Linked DNA regions of Homo sapiens. The protein of the gene in region 1 interacts with the protein of each later gene in a biochemical or structural test. Each region holds a gene or a part of one and is shown on either strand. Other genes may lie near its edges. The genes, in order: KLF13 and SREBF2.

Region 1 (6,838 bases):
GCAGGGGCCCACCTTCATCTCTGCCTTGATGGATTTGTCACAGAAGCTCTTGGAGGTGGGGCATGTGGGAGGGGTGTTGAGAGACCAGGGTGTTGGGTGTTGCGGGCCCTTCCCCAGAGAGGGTGTGAAGGCGGGGCCAGGTGCGGATACTGATGCTCTGCCCCTGTGCCCACAGGTGAGAGGCCCTTCGCCTGCAGCTGGCAGGACTGCAACAAGAAGTTCGCGCGCTCCGACGAGCTGGCGCGGCACTACCGCACACACACGGGCGAGAAGAAGTTCAGCTGCCCCATCTGCGAGAAGCGCTTCATGCGCAGCGACCACCTGACCAAGCACGCGCGCCGCCACGCCAACTTCCACCCGGGAATGCTGCAGCGGCGCGGCGGGGGCTCGCGGACCGGCTCCCTCAGCGACTACAGCCGCTCCGACGCCAGCAGCCCCACCATCAGCCCGGCCAGCTCGCCCTGAGCCCGCCACAGCCATGAGCAGCCGCTCCCACCCCCTCGTGAGTCCCTGGCCTTTCCTTTTGTAATAAGAAAGAAGAGAGAGAACTTGATGCAAAGTCCACGAAAAAACAATTTTTTTCACCTCAGGTGTCAAAGTAAATTTGTTAAAAAAACAAAAAAAACACAAAAATTTCAAAAAACACCACCCACCAAATTGCACAATAGATACACCCACAAAGTTGAGATTCAGCGTTGTTGAACCCCCTTTCTCAGGGATGGACACGTTTCACGAGGTCAGTGAGGACACCCCTTCCTGCCGCCTTACTCTGTACATAGATTTGCACTCTGGAGTTTTCTGTTAGGTTCGGGAACACGCTGGGGACAGAGCAGGCCAGCCAGTCTGGTGGAGCTCAGCGTCTGGCTGGCTGGCCAGCCTGTGGGTCTGTTGGGAGCAGATGTGCTCACTGACGTTTGTGCCTCCAGGGCAGATTCCTAAGCAGCTGGCCTGACCTCTTCCTGCCCAGCCCCCAACCCAGTCTCTGGCCTCTGCCCAACGAGCCTGGCTGGGCTTGCAACGCAGCTGATTCTGAGACAGGCCCCTGCAGAGGGATGCCTTAAAGCTGTCCCTGGCTGGAGGAGCACTCCACCTTGGGGATAGTGGAGGGGGCCTTCAGCCCTCTGCACCCTGCCTGCCTCACACCCCGCCTTCAGGAGCCCTCTCCTACGGCGCTAGGGAGCACTGGAAGCAGAGATGCCAGCCCTGGCTGAGCGTAGCACTGCACCGTCCGACCTCCGAGGCAGGGGCCGGGGTCACACCTGCCAGGACTCCGCTTCTCCGTGTCCCAGCAGAAGGCATGCAGGACCCTGTCACTACTATACCTGGGCCTCTGATGGGGAATTCTGGTCTTCTAAAAAGATGTTAGAAATTCCTGGTGGCACATCCAGTTCCGAGTTTGCCCGCACGGGCACTTTTGTTGGAAACAGTGGGCAGGTCATGGGGCCTCCTCATCAGAGGGTCTGTGTGAGCGGCTGTGCATGTGGCAGCGCACCATGCTTCACAGAGACCATTCTGTAGCAAGAGACCGGAACATTGTGACTTGGACCTTTTCAGGAGTGGCGCGGATGTTACAGGAAATGCTGTCGGAGAGCGCGCATTCTATTTCCTCCGCAGGGAATGCCAGATAGAAAGTTGCGGGCAACACTTTTCTCAGACCCACCATGTCCCCAACTCAGACTTAGCAAACCTCCAGCCTCTCCGTTTCCCCTGGACTCCTCCTCCCTTTTCCTCCTGCTTCTCCTTGTCCTGCCTGGAGGCTCCAGGCCACACCCAGCTGGTGGGGCTGCTCCAGTGCCCCATCACCGGCCTTCTCCTGGCAGGAGAGGAGGAGCAGAGAGCTGGGTCCTGGGCTGGGATTCGAGCCCTGGGCGGGGGTCAGTCAAGCCGTGGTCCAGCAAACTCCTCTGCAGATGGCTGGAGTGTTGACCCAGGCTTGTGGCCCAGGTATCACCTTCCCTTCCTCCTGAGAGTTGAGGCCTGTAAATACAAGGGCCCAGGACAGAGTGTGTGCGTGCGTGTGGGTGTGTGCGCGCGTGAGCACACACGCGTGTGTTGGGGGGGGTGGGGGGATTGGGGTGGACTCAGGGTATCTTGCCAGAGATACCTGTTTTGATGAGTACCTATTTTGATGCAAAGGAACGGCCCTGGGACCTCAGAGGGCCACAGATGGGCTTCCTGGGCCTAGCGTGCCTTGGTTGTGGCCATCCTGCTTCTACTCAGCCCTGCCATGCTATGGGGTGCAGCACAAACCCAGGACCCAGGCCTAGCCACTGCCCACAGCTGATGGTCACTGTTTTGGCTGGCTCCAGAGTGGACAGGTACGCTCTGTCCACAGCAGCTGCTCAGGCACAGTATGCCGTCAGGTGCCCGCTTCTTACCACTGTGTGTCAGCTGGGATTGGCCGACAGCGTGGTGGTGACTTCTAGGTAGACCGATGGACCCTAAATTGGGCAGTGGCATTGTTTCTGCTGTGGTGGGAACTGGCAGGGAGAGGGTCACCTCCACTCTGGTTGGATGCGGAGCTGGTCCCTCTGGCTGCCATGCTGTGTTGGGGCTCTCTGACCTCCCTGCTTGCATTGGGTCTGGGAGAGAGAGTGGAATATTTGGTAGGGACCTTGACAGAAGAGAGCCCTGGGTGCTTGTGGTGCAAAGATCTTCATGCCCAGTTCCAAAGTGAGGTCCCTCCCAAAGTTGTTTTCGTGTGAGGCAGAGAAAGCCACACTCTGAATACATTTTATGTCTCAGGAATTCACATTCCAGGTTCAGGAATTTTATTCCAAAGTCCTTTGGTGCACTCACCGTCCACCGTTCCCCAAGGCAGGGAGAGGGAGTGGCCCGTCCCTGGGAGGCTGGCAAAGTGCTCTCCAGGGAGGGGTCAGACGTCCTTGTGATCTGCCCAGGGTGTCACGGAAGGAGATTTTCTAGCTCCACATCTGTCTGCACATAGGAAGGAAAAGATAGGACTCTAAACCTAGTCATCTTGGAATAAAAAGAAGAGCTGGTTTGTTTTAGAGCAGGGCGGGGGGTGGGGGAGGGAAGCGGGTGTTGGCTGTTTCCAAAGAGAGCACTTAATTTAATTTTTCCTTTAAATGACCCAGGGCTGTTCCGTCTGATAGATGGAAGGGTAACATTGCCTTAAAACAGAAATATGCAGGCGTTGGCTATTTTTGGCATAAGAGCGTGTCTTCATTCCCAAAGTGGTTCTCGTTTAATGGCAGGGTGCGGTCCTTAGGCCCCGGCCTGGACTGGGAAATGGGGGTAGGGCACCAGGAGAGAAATCCTCCTGGGTACTCCTGGCCAGACCCTCCTGAATCATCTGCGGCTTAAACTCATCTCGCTTGAAGGGCAGGGAGAAACCCATGAATCTCAGGCACGGTTCACAGGGGTCCTCAAGGGCAGGTTTCCATTTCATCATGAAGTGAGGGACTCCTGTGGAAGAGGGTGGTGGGCCTTGGAACGCTGCCTCCACTGAGGCGGGCACACAAGGCGGACCCTCCTGAAACAGCCTCCATTTTCTTCAAACATGCAGAATGTTTTCCCAGACTGCGTCTATTTCAGGGTCTTCCATTTTTGTGGTTTATGGCCATGCTTGCCAGTTTTGGTGGGGTTGAGGAACCCATAGGACTCATAGAAATAATAGTGAAAACTCAAACCCTTATTTTGGGACTTCAGTTCTCGTGGTCCATAGGGGCAGAGATGTCAAAGTGAAGGTTGCCTGAGTGAAGGGAGAGTTCCCCTATAAAAGGCCTAAAATTGATCTGGGGCTCAGCCATCAAGGGGCTGGTGTTGCTCCTGTCCCAGACAAGGAAGCCCCTCTTTACATCAGCCATATTAGGGGAACGGTTGTCAGCTCCCCAAATGCCTACTGGATCCTACAGCCATACAGGAAAACAGACGGACACAGCCCTTTCCTTAAAGAGCCCTGGGGTCCTGTCCTGCAGGATGCTGCATAGGAATGGGCAGAGATGTCCTGGATGGGAACATGGTCCTGGAGGTGCCCTACCTGCATCCTGCTGCACCCCCACCCACGACACTCGAGTGCAAGATCGCCTCACTCCTAACCCTGACTTTATTCCCAGGCCCCACACCGAGGCAGGTGCAGGATTCGCCATGGTGCAGCCTCCGGGTACAAACATCTGAGGCACTGGCGATCCCAGTCCTTGCAGCACCCTGAACACAGCTCAGACCAGTGAGGGGTGATTCAGAGGTGGGGATGGGCAGAGAGGGCTGGCCACTCTGCCTCAGGACTTGACCTCAAGTGTTCTGTCTCCCCACCCGGTGTGTCCAGAAGACCAGCCTCTTTCTTGCCAGAAGCAGGTGCTAAGATGGACTGCACAGGGTCCCGGCACTCCCTCGGGACCCATTCAGGATCTCAGCTGGGCAGGGGTGCCACCCAACAGGAAGATGTGATCTGAGCAATAGTGTGGCCTTGTTTCTCCGCTTCTGGTTGTGGCTGTGTGTACAGGGCTACCTATTTTGACTTCTGACAGGTGTCACTGATTTTCTTTCCCCCATTTAAAAAAGGTCATTTAGTCAAAGACACAGTGCTAGAGGTTTAAAGGGTGTAATGTGTTGGTCACATCACAACCAGTAAGAAACGCTTGGTAGGTTATCCACATCTTTTGCTGACTGTTTCCATATACAATTCTGGTCACCATATTTTCCAAAGCTAAAATCTGAGGCGTGGGCTGATGGTTTTTGAAATCAGGATTACCCCAGGAAGAACCAGGTCCTATTACTAATTTTCCTGATTCTGAGGCTCTGAAGGCTTGTCTGAGACACATTCCGGAGACCTTTGTACCAGAACTTGGATGCATAGTCCACCTTACTACTGATACACGCCTGAGCACCCTTTAGGGCGAGGCGCCGCCTCCTGCCTGCTGTCCTGTCCCTCAGCATCAGAAGAGTTGAATTCAGCAGGAGACGGGAGCCCGGTGTCCATGAGGGAAGAGGGGTCGCGCTTGGTTTCTACTGACCCCCATGAAGATTTCAGACTTGCAGTGCGGCCACCTGGCCCTGCCCTGCCTCTCTCTTTCTCATACAGCTTTAAAACTTTACTACTTTTATTTAAAAATGAACTGGATGGGAGAGAAGTAGCGTCCCCTACCCTACAAGTCACACATTCCGGGGAGGGGGGTGGGGGGTGGAGGCAGGAAGTCATGGGGGTGGGGGTGGGAGCACGGGAACAGCTTTCTTAAGGCCTCAGGGTCCTGTTTTCCCTGGCCTCTTCTAGAGGGCCCGTGGACAGGTCGCAGTGCGTGCTTATTTGGAAACCAGGTGTGTGAGCCGAATGCCTGCCAGGCCATGCACTCAGCAGAGGAGCCCTTGTACCTGGCTGCCCTGAGAGGAGCAAGAGGCCACCTCCCATGTGGCTCTAGACACCACGTGGGCTCATTAGCCCCAGCGTCTGTGCCGGCTCCAGGTGCCTGCCTCTGGGTGTGTGAGTGGGAGACTTTGCTCCCTGGCCTCATCCTAGAGAGGCCCCTGGTGCCTAGTGCTGAGGCCTCTGGGGCTGGAAAGCCTCAGCAGAAAGGAGGCACTACTGAGCAACTATGCATTGTCATTGTCGGGTTTGGGGCTTTCGGTGGTTCCTTGGTGACTGGGAATTGCTTGTGTGCATGTGTTGGGTGCATGCTTCCGGGTCTCAGCTGCCCCAGGCCCGCACAGGCAACCCCTTCCCATCCAAAGCCATTGGTGGAGCTTCTCTGGAATCATTTGCCAAAAGCCCAAGGCAGAATCCAAGGGTCCAAGACCATTTCCATGGAGCTCATGTTTTTCTTTTCTGTAGGAACTTTTTTTTAACCAGCACCCACCATAATTCCGAAGGCCACGTTTCATCTTTCCTGGATCACTACAGTGAAGTATTACAGTTGTACAGTTCCCAGTCTGGCCTTGGCTTGCTCGGATAAAACTTTGTATGTATTTTGTATGGCATAGATTCTATATTGTAATGATGTCCTATGCAAAAAGAAAAATTAACGAAATTGTAAATTTTATTGTTTTAACGTGTATGCATGTTTAGTGACGTTTACATTTTGAAATAAAATTTATGATTCATTATTTTATTTGCTGGAGCTAGTTTCTTTGAAGAGCATGTCTTGCAGAGGCTCCGGGAGGGGAGGGGAACTGAAATGCACAAACTCAAGCAGTTGCAATTGACTGAGGGACTGAAGCTTGCCTGGAACTTGGCGGGTCCTATTTTGGAAGGAAGGCTTTGCAGAAGAGCTCTTGCACACAGTGGGTGCTCTTCTGGCTTCCCCTCCTGCCCATGGGAAGCTATTTCAGCTCTTCACATTCCCACCCCTCCGTCCATCCGAAAGAGCACGGAGGAGAACGGGATGTGGTGATGGCAGATTCCCTCAAAGGGCACAGCACCTTTCCCTCAAAGTCCCCCCAAAACACCTGGACTTCCTTTTCCTGGGCAGCAGCCACCGCTTCTTTCAACCCCAGATGCGCTGCTTGCCTCACCCCTCAGCCTAGAGTCTAGAAAACTCCCCTGTTTCTAGCTACCAAAGTTCCTACAACCTACCACGGGCACTGACCCCAAAGTGTGCTCCAGCGAGGACGAGTCCCAGGACACTGGGAGTCTGGGGAGTAGGAAGGCAGGTGTTGATAGCAGAGCCCGTTTAAGTCCCCAATGAACACTAACTGCCCCTGGCTGTCCCCAGGGCAGATGATGTCCTCATCGGAGGCAGTGGGAAGCTGGCAGCTAGTGGAGGAGGTGGCTGCTGGGGTGGAGGTCTGGCCCGAACCCTGTTCTAGCCACAGCATGTAGAAGGGAGGTGCTGGTGCAGCCACATCTCAGCCTCACCCAGGGGTAGACCAGCGCTGCATCTGG
Region 2 (7,273 bases), on another chromosome or scaffold:
CGCAGTCATCTCGGCTTACTGCAACCTCTGCCTCCTGGGTTCAAGCGATTCTCCTGCCTCAGCCTCCCGAGTAGCTGGGATTACAGGCACCCACCACCATGCCTGGCTAATTTTTGTAGTAGACAGGGGTTTTCACCATGTTTGTCAGGCTGGTCTCGAACTCCTGACTTCAGGTGATCCACCTGCCTTGGCCTCCCAAAGTGCTGGGATTACAAGCATAAGCCACCACCCCTGGCCTATTTACATTTAATTATGATTTATTTTTCCTATCCTTCTGCAAGCATATATATATATATATATATATATATATATATATATATACACACACACACACACACACACAAAATATCAAAATATATATATATATGTATATATATATATATTTTTTTTTTTTTTTGAGACTGAGTCTCGCTCTGTTGCCCAGGCTGGAGTGCAGTGGCACGATCTCTGCTCACTGCAAGCTCTGCCTCCCGGGTTCACTCCATTCTCCTGACTCAGCCTCCCGAGTAGCTTGGACTACAGGCGCCCACCACCACGCCCAGCTAATTTTTTGTATTTTTAGTAGAGACGGGGTTTCACCGTGTTAGCCAGGATGGTCTCGATCTCCTGACCTTGTGATCCGCACGCCTTGGCCTCCCAAAGTGCTGGGATTATAGGCGTGAGTCACCGCGCCCGGCCCAAAAAATCTTTGTGTTTTTTTGTTTGTTTGTTTTGTGTTCAGAGAAGGGATCTGGCTAGGTGCCCTGGCTCATGCCTGTAGTCCCAGCACTTTGGGAGGCCAAACCGAGAGGTTGCTTTTCAGGAGTTTGAGACCAGCCTGGGCAACATGGTGAAATCTCGTCTCTACAGAAAATACAAAAATTAGCCGGGCATGGTTGGCGCACACCTGTGGTCCCAGCTACTCAGGAGGCTGATGTGGAAGGATCGCTTGAGCCTGGGAGGTGGAGGCTGCAGTGAGCTGAAATTGCAACACTGCACTCCAACCTGGGTGACAGAGCAATACCCTATCTCAAAAAAAAGAGAGACAGAGTCTCGCTGTGTTGCCCAGGCTGTTCTCAAACTCCTGACCTCAAGTGACCCTCCCACCTTGGCCTCACAATGCACTGGGATTACAGGCATGAGCCACCACAACCGGTCTCAGCAGCTTTCTGTTTGTCAGATATACAAATATACCCCAGGCTCCAGGCCCCCACATCCCCCAAAAAACACACACACACACACACACACAGCATCAGAGACCTGAGAAGGACATCTTGGTGGAGGTTTGGGGGAATGGAGATGGTTCCTTTTATTTTTTTATAGTGGTGGTGTGGTGGTTTTTGTTGTTTTGGTGTCTAAATCAGAGCATCACATGGCCTTGAAGGTTTGGAAAGGAGGGGCCATAGTTCAAGAACAAGCAGTAGCTTCTTGGGAACGTATTGGAGAGAGAAAAGAGAAAAGAATATGGACAATGTAGAGAATTGTAGGTCTGAAACTATCTGGGACAAAGCTGAGGCTCCTGACTTCTATAGGGACCAGTCATATGAAAAAGAAGGGAGTCGTGAGAGATGATGGGGTAGTTGTGGGTTAAGTTGGGTTTTGGAAAGCCTTTGGGAAGATTGACCAGGGAAGAGGCCCTGGAAGTAGGCTTGAGACCCTTTGGGCTGGGAATTTAAGGGTCCCAGCTACTTGGAACATGATCTAGAAAGGGAAGCGAGGTCTCCAGGTGGACAAATCCCTTTGGACCCAAGACTCCTTGCCCAGAGAAAAGGGGCACAACCAGACAAGGGCTAGCATGGGCCCTGGGAAGCACGGAGTTCAGGGTGGGGCAGGCTTGCTGTGTCCTGGCCTGGCAACATACCTGCACTGTGTTGTGGTAGAAGAACACAAAGCTGGGAGGCAGAGAACTGGTTCTAATCCTAGCTGTACCCTGACAAGCTGTGTGACCTTGGCCAAGTTACTTTCCTCTCCTGGACTTCATATATGGTTTTTCCATTCTTTGCATCCCTGAAGCTCCATGACTTAGGGGCCATCAACTTGGTTGTCCCTGAGTGTTTCCAAGAATACCAACAGTGCCCAGGGTTTTACTCAGCTTGGAGAGGAGGCCTAGAGCCTCCCTGTGGTGAGGAGGAAAGAGGTTAGAGCAAGTTTGGGTCTGCAGTGCTAGGATTAGAGGTGGCCTCACAAGCCAAAACCGCTATACTCACAGCCTTAGGACAGTGACTCCCTACTCGCTGCCTCAGTGTTTCCAGCTGTAAAAAAGGACCCTTGGTACCTTCGACAGAACAGCACCCATCTAGTACAAAGGTAGTTCCTTTTATGATCAAAACAATCAGGAAAAAGAGAGAGGCTGGGTGCGGTGGCTCACACCTGTAATCCCAGCACTTTGGGAGGCTGAGGTGGGTGGATCACCTAAGGTCAGGAGTTCGAGACCCACCTATCAATATGGTGAAACCCTGTCTCTACTAAAATTACAAAAATTAGCCGGGCATGGTGCCGTGCACCTATAGTCCCAGCTACTCAGGAGGCTGAGGCGGGAGAATCGCTTGAACCCAGGAGGCAGAGGTTGAAGTAAGACAAGTTCGCGCCACTGCACTCCATCCAGCGTGGGCGATAGAGGAAGACTCCGTCTCAAAAAGAAAAAAGAAAGAAAATGAGAGAAAGGGCCTGGAGGTGAGTGTGAGGAGGGAAAAGAACATCAAACAGATAAAGTCCTGTCCTGTTGTCCTGGGACCTTGGGCAGCCATCTTGGCCCAGATGATCCCCACAAGAAAGAGGTAAGGGTTTCCTGACCCATTTCTGCCATGGTCTTAGGAAAGTCATTGAGTTTTCATGCCTTAGTTTCTTAAGCAAGTTTGAAAGTTCACTTTTTGGATAGCAATAAAATTACTCCTTTTCTTTTGTTCACAGAGATGCTGCAATTTGTCAGTAATCAAGTGGGAGAGTTCCCTGACTTGTTTTCAGAACAGCTGTGTAGCTCCTTTCCTGGCAGTGGTGGTAGTGGTAGCAGCAGCGGCAGCAGTGGCAGCAGCAGCAGCAGCAGCAATGGCAGGGGCAGCAGCAGCGGAGCTGTGGACCCTTCAGTGCAACGGTCATTCACCCAGGTCACATTACCTTCCTTCTCTCCCTCGGCGGCCTCCCCACAGGCTCCAACTCTGCAAGTCAAGGTTTCTCCCACCTCAGTTCCCACCACACCCAGGGCAACTCCTATTCTTCAGCCCCGCCCCCAGCCCCAGCCTCAACCTCAAACTCAGCTGCAACAACAGACGGTAATGATCACGCCAACATTCAGCACCACTCCGCAGACGAGGATCATCCAGCAGCCTTTGATATACCAGAATGCAGCTACTAGCTTTCAAGGTGATTCAGAAGTTAGAATGGTAGTGGTTGGTTGGTTCCAATGTTTATGTGCCAGTTTGCAGACACTGTAAATATTTCTGTCGTCTTCAGGAATGGCAGGTATATCAATATGGTCCTGTCTGAATGAGGTTCTGGTAACTGGCAATAAGAACTGGTACAGGAGCATGTCACATTCTGCAGCTTCAAATACCTTAATATCTATTGCGCCTAATTCAAAAATACTTGGTTAAAAAATCCAGCAAGCGGCCGGGCGCGGTGGCTCACGCCTGTAATCCCAGCACTTTGGGAGGCCAAGGCGGGCGGATCACGAGGTCAGGAGATTGAGACCATCCTGGCTAACTCAGTGAAACCCCATCTCTACTAAAAAATAGAAAAAATTAGCCGGGCATGGTGGCGGGCGCCTGTAGTCCCAGCTACTCGGGAGGCTGAGGCAGGAGAATGGCGTGAACCCGGGAGGCAGAGCTTGCAGTGAGCAGAGATCGTGCCACTGCACTCCAGCCTAGGCAACAGAGCGAGACTCCCATCTTAAAAAGAAAAAAAAAAATCCAGCAAGCATAGTAGACACAGGGCCATTCTGATAACTAGTGGTGGAGACTTGAATAAGGCTTGAAATTGGCTAGGCGGCAGCCAGATCTCAGCTGCCACAGTTGAGAACTATTCATTCAGCAAACATCTGAGCATCCACTATGGTGATGAATATGACTTTTAATATAGGTGCAGCAGCTTCAAGTAGCAAGCCTCATGCTGGGCCCTTAGTATGTGTTGAGGGAATGGATGACTGAAAGGGGCCTGTTCTTTCTGTGATGTGCTGCATCCCAGTGCCTTTTCATCATATTTCCCTCTGACTCTGTGGGGAGCCCAGGGTAAGATTAGTATTGCTTTGAATTTCAAAGAATCTTATAGTTCTTCAATGGAGTTCAAGAATTGGGACAGGTGGGGGAATGTAAAGGCAAAAAGCTGAGACAGTCCTCCCAAAGTGCACTTGCCGTCCAGAAAGGATGGAAGAAAATGAAGCCCCAGGGAGTTGTTGATTCTCAACATCTGTTAACTCCCTTGCTGGGTGCAGTCATTTGCTGATTAGCTTCCCTTTCCCCCACCCTGGCACCCAGAGTAATAAAACAATTTGTACTCGTTCCCTCAGAAATTGATGCAGCCCTTATGGGATGTTCTTGTTGTCTAAGCCACCTTGTAAATGGCTGTGCACATCATCTTCAGCAGTAGGTGGGGAGTTGGAATCATTATGAGATACTCCATCCTCAGGTTTCTGCTGCAGCTGCAGTGACAGAATGCATTCCTCATCTCTGTGCCTTCTTTCTCCTCTTCTCCCAAGTCCTTCAGCCTCAAGTCCAAAGCCTGGTGACATCCTCCCAGGTACAGCCGGTCACCATTCAGCAGCAGGTGCAGACAGTACAGGCCCAGCGGGTGCTGACACAAACGGCCAATGGCACGCTGCAGACCCTTGCCCCGGCTACGGTGCAGACAGTTGCTGCGCCACAGGTGCAGCAGGTCCCGGTAAGTGGCTGGAAAGGATTCAGGGAGGCACTGGTTGGGGCTGTTAACTGGTCCTTGGTTGAAGATGTGGTCTACATACTAAGAAGGACCAACCAGAGTGTACACAAAGCAGCTTGTAGGGCGCCAGGATGCACCTGTGAGCAGCGTATAGTGACCTGGCTGAGTCCATATCTGTAGATAGACACTGGCACTCAGGAAAGGCTGGTGCAGTCACTTACGTACACATGTAATGGGCATAAAACTGGAAAGAAATGTGCTAAATTGGTATTTCCCAGATAATTTTCTTTTTCATAGTTTTGTGTTGTGTTTTTTTGTTGTTGTTGTTGTTTTGAGACGGAGTCTCATTCTGTTGCCCAAGCTGGAGTGGAGTGGTGTGGTCTCAGCTCACTATAACCTCCGCCTCCCGGGTTCAAGCAGTTCTGCTGCTTCAGCCTCCCGAGTAGCTGGGACTACAGGCATGTGCCACCACACCCGGCTAATTTTTATATTTTTAGTAGAGACGGGATGTTGGCCAGGCTGGCTTGAACTTCTGACCTTGTGATCCACCCGCCTCGGCCTCCCAAAGTGCTGGGATTACAGACGTGAGCCACTGCCCTTGGCTTTCATAGTTTTCTGTTCTCCATATTTTCTGCTGTGGATCCTGAACATATATTGGGTTGGGGGGAGGGGGGGCATGTATTATTAATCTTTTTTTTAATTTTTTTTTTTTGGAGACAGTTTTGCTCTTGTTGCCCAGGTTGGAGTGCAGTGGCGTGATCTTGGCTCCCTGCAACCCCCGCCTACCAGGTTCAAGCGATTCTCCTGCCTCAGCCTCCCAAGTAGCTGGGATTACAAGCACCTGCCACTGCACCTGGCTAGTTTTTTGTATTTTTAGTAGAGATGGGGTTTCTCCAGGTTGGCCAGGCTGGTTTTGAACTCCTGGCCTCAAACAGTGCATCGATCTCGGCCTCCCAAAGTGCTGAGACTACAGGTGGGAGCCACTGTGCCCAGCTGGGGGACGTGTATTATTTTTATAATCACAAAAAACGTCTTTATGTTATATATCATCGTGGACTATATCCTCTTTTTTCTTTTTTTTTTTTTGAGAGTCTTGCTCTGTCGCCCAGGCTGGAGTGCAGTGGCACGATCTCGGCTCACTGTGCAACCTCAGCCTCCTGGGTTCAAGCAATTCTCCTGCCTCGGCCTCCCGAGTAGCTGGGATTCCAGGCACGCGCCATCACGCCCAGCTAATTTTTGTATTTTTAGTAGAGACAGGGTTTCACCATGTTGGTTAGGCTGGTCTCAAACTCCTGACCTCATGATCCACCTGCCTTGGTCTCCCAAAGTGCTGGGATTACAAGCATGAGCCACCACATCTGGCCTATATTTTCTTACTAACAATTTATCTTAAAAAAATCAGGTTTATTATTTTTGCTTCTCAGCCATGTGTCTGGCTTTCCTGAGTCTTTTCTCTCCTCTCTGCCATCCACCCTACCCATCTCTGCTCTGCTCCTGCTGGGCCACTGGCACCACCCTCTTGAAAGTCTTTCAACCTAAAAACCCATGACCTGGCTGAGCACCATGGCTCACGCCTGTAATCTCAGCACTTTGGGAGGCTGAGGCAGGTGGATTTCTTGAACCCAAAAGTTCAGGACCAGCCTGGGCAACATGGTGAAACCCTGTCTCTACAAAAAAATACAAACAATTAGCCAGGCATGGTGGCACACACCTGTAGTCCCAGCTACTCAGGAGGCTGAGGCAGCAGGATCACTTGAGCCCGGGAGGTCAAGGCTGCAGTGAGCTGAGATTGCACCACTGCACTCCAGCCTGGGCAACAGAGAGCAACCCTGTCTCAGCAAAAAAAAAAAAAAAAAAAAAAAGCCAGGACCCTCATTAGCTAGCCCCTCTTTCTCCACCTGAACCCGGTATTCAGGCTGTACAAAATAGCCGGCTTTTGAAATGGCCTCTATGAAATTTCCTGTTCATTTTTTTATTCTCAATTTCATAAAAATTATATCATTTCTCATTCTTTCTTGGAAGGTCTATGCAGTAAGAAAGGAATGCATAACAGAAGGATAATGCTATCATCCTTTTACTTTTCTTCCTTCTTCATCCAGGTCCTGGTCCAGCCTCAGATCATCAAGACAGATTCCCTTGTTTTGACCACACTGAAGACAGATGGCAGCCCTGTTATGGCTGCGGTCCAGAACCCGGCCCTCACCGCCCTCACCACCCCTATCCAGACGGCTGCCCTTCAAGTACCAGTAAGAGCTGCCTTCTCCCCCACCCTCCTCCCTCCCCCTTTATTCCTGGAGGTGTTAGTCTTCAGAGATGTTAAATCTCTATATGCTGAGTAGGTATGGGAGGGTCTATAGCACAAATCAGTCAAATTGTAAATGTCACCCCTCTTAGTTGTTTTTCGCTCGAAAAAGTATTAGCAATG

What was found.
Region 2: the proteins of KLF13 (region 1) and SREBF2 form a complex in vitro, tested with the Homo sapiens proteins (one study listed by BioGRID).

The regions. Positions count from the first base shown.
Region 1 is NC_000015.10:31,371,835-31,378,672, forward strand, and holds the end of KLF13 (Krueppel-like factor 13), read left to right. Parts: intron 1-175; coding exon 176-465; 3' UTR 466-6,065; downstream 6,066-6,838. UniProt on the Homo sapiens protein: Transcription factor that activates expression from GC-rich minimal promoter regions, including genes in the cells of the erythroid lineage. Represses transcription by binding to the BTE site, a GC-rich DNA element, in competition with the activator SP1.
Region 2 is NC_000022.11:41,863,942-41,871,214, forward strand, and holds part of SREBF2 (sterol regulatory element-binding protein 2), read left to right. Parts: intron 1-2,889; coding exon 2,890-3,339; intron 3,340-4,669; coding exon 4,670-4,851; intron 4,852-6,947; coding exon 6,948-7,094; intron 7,095-7,273.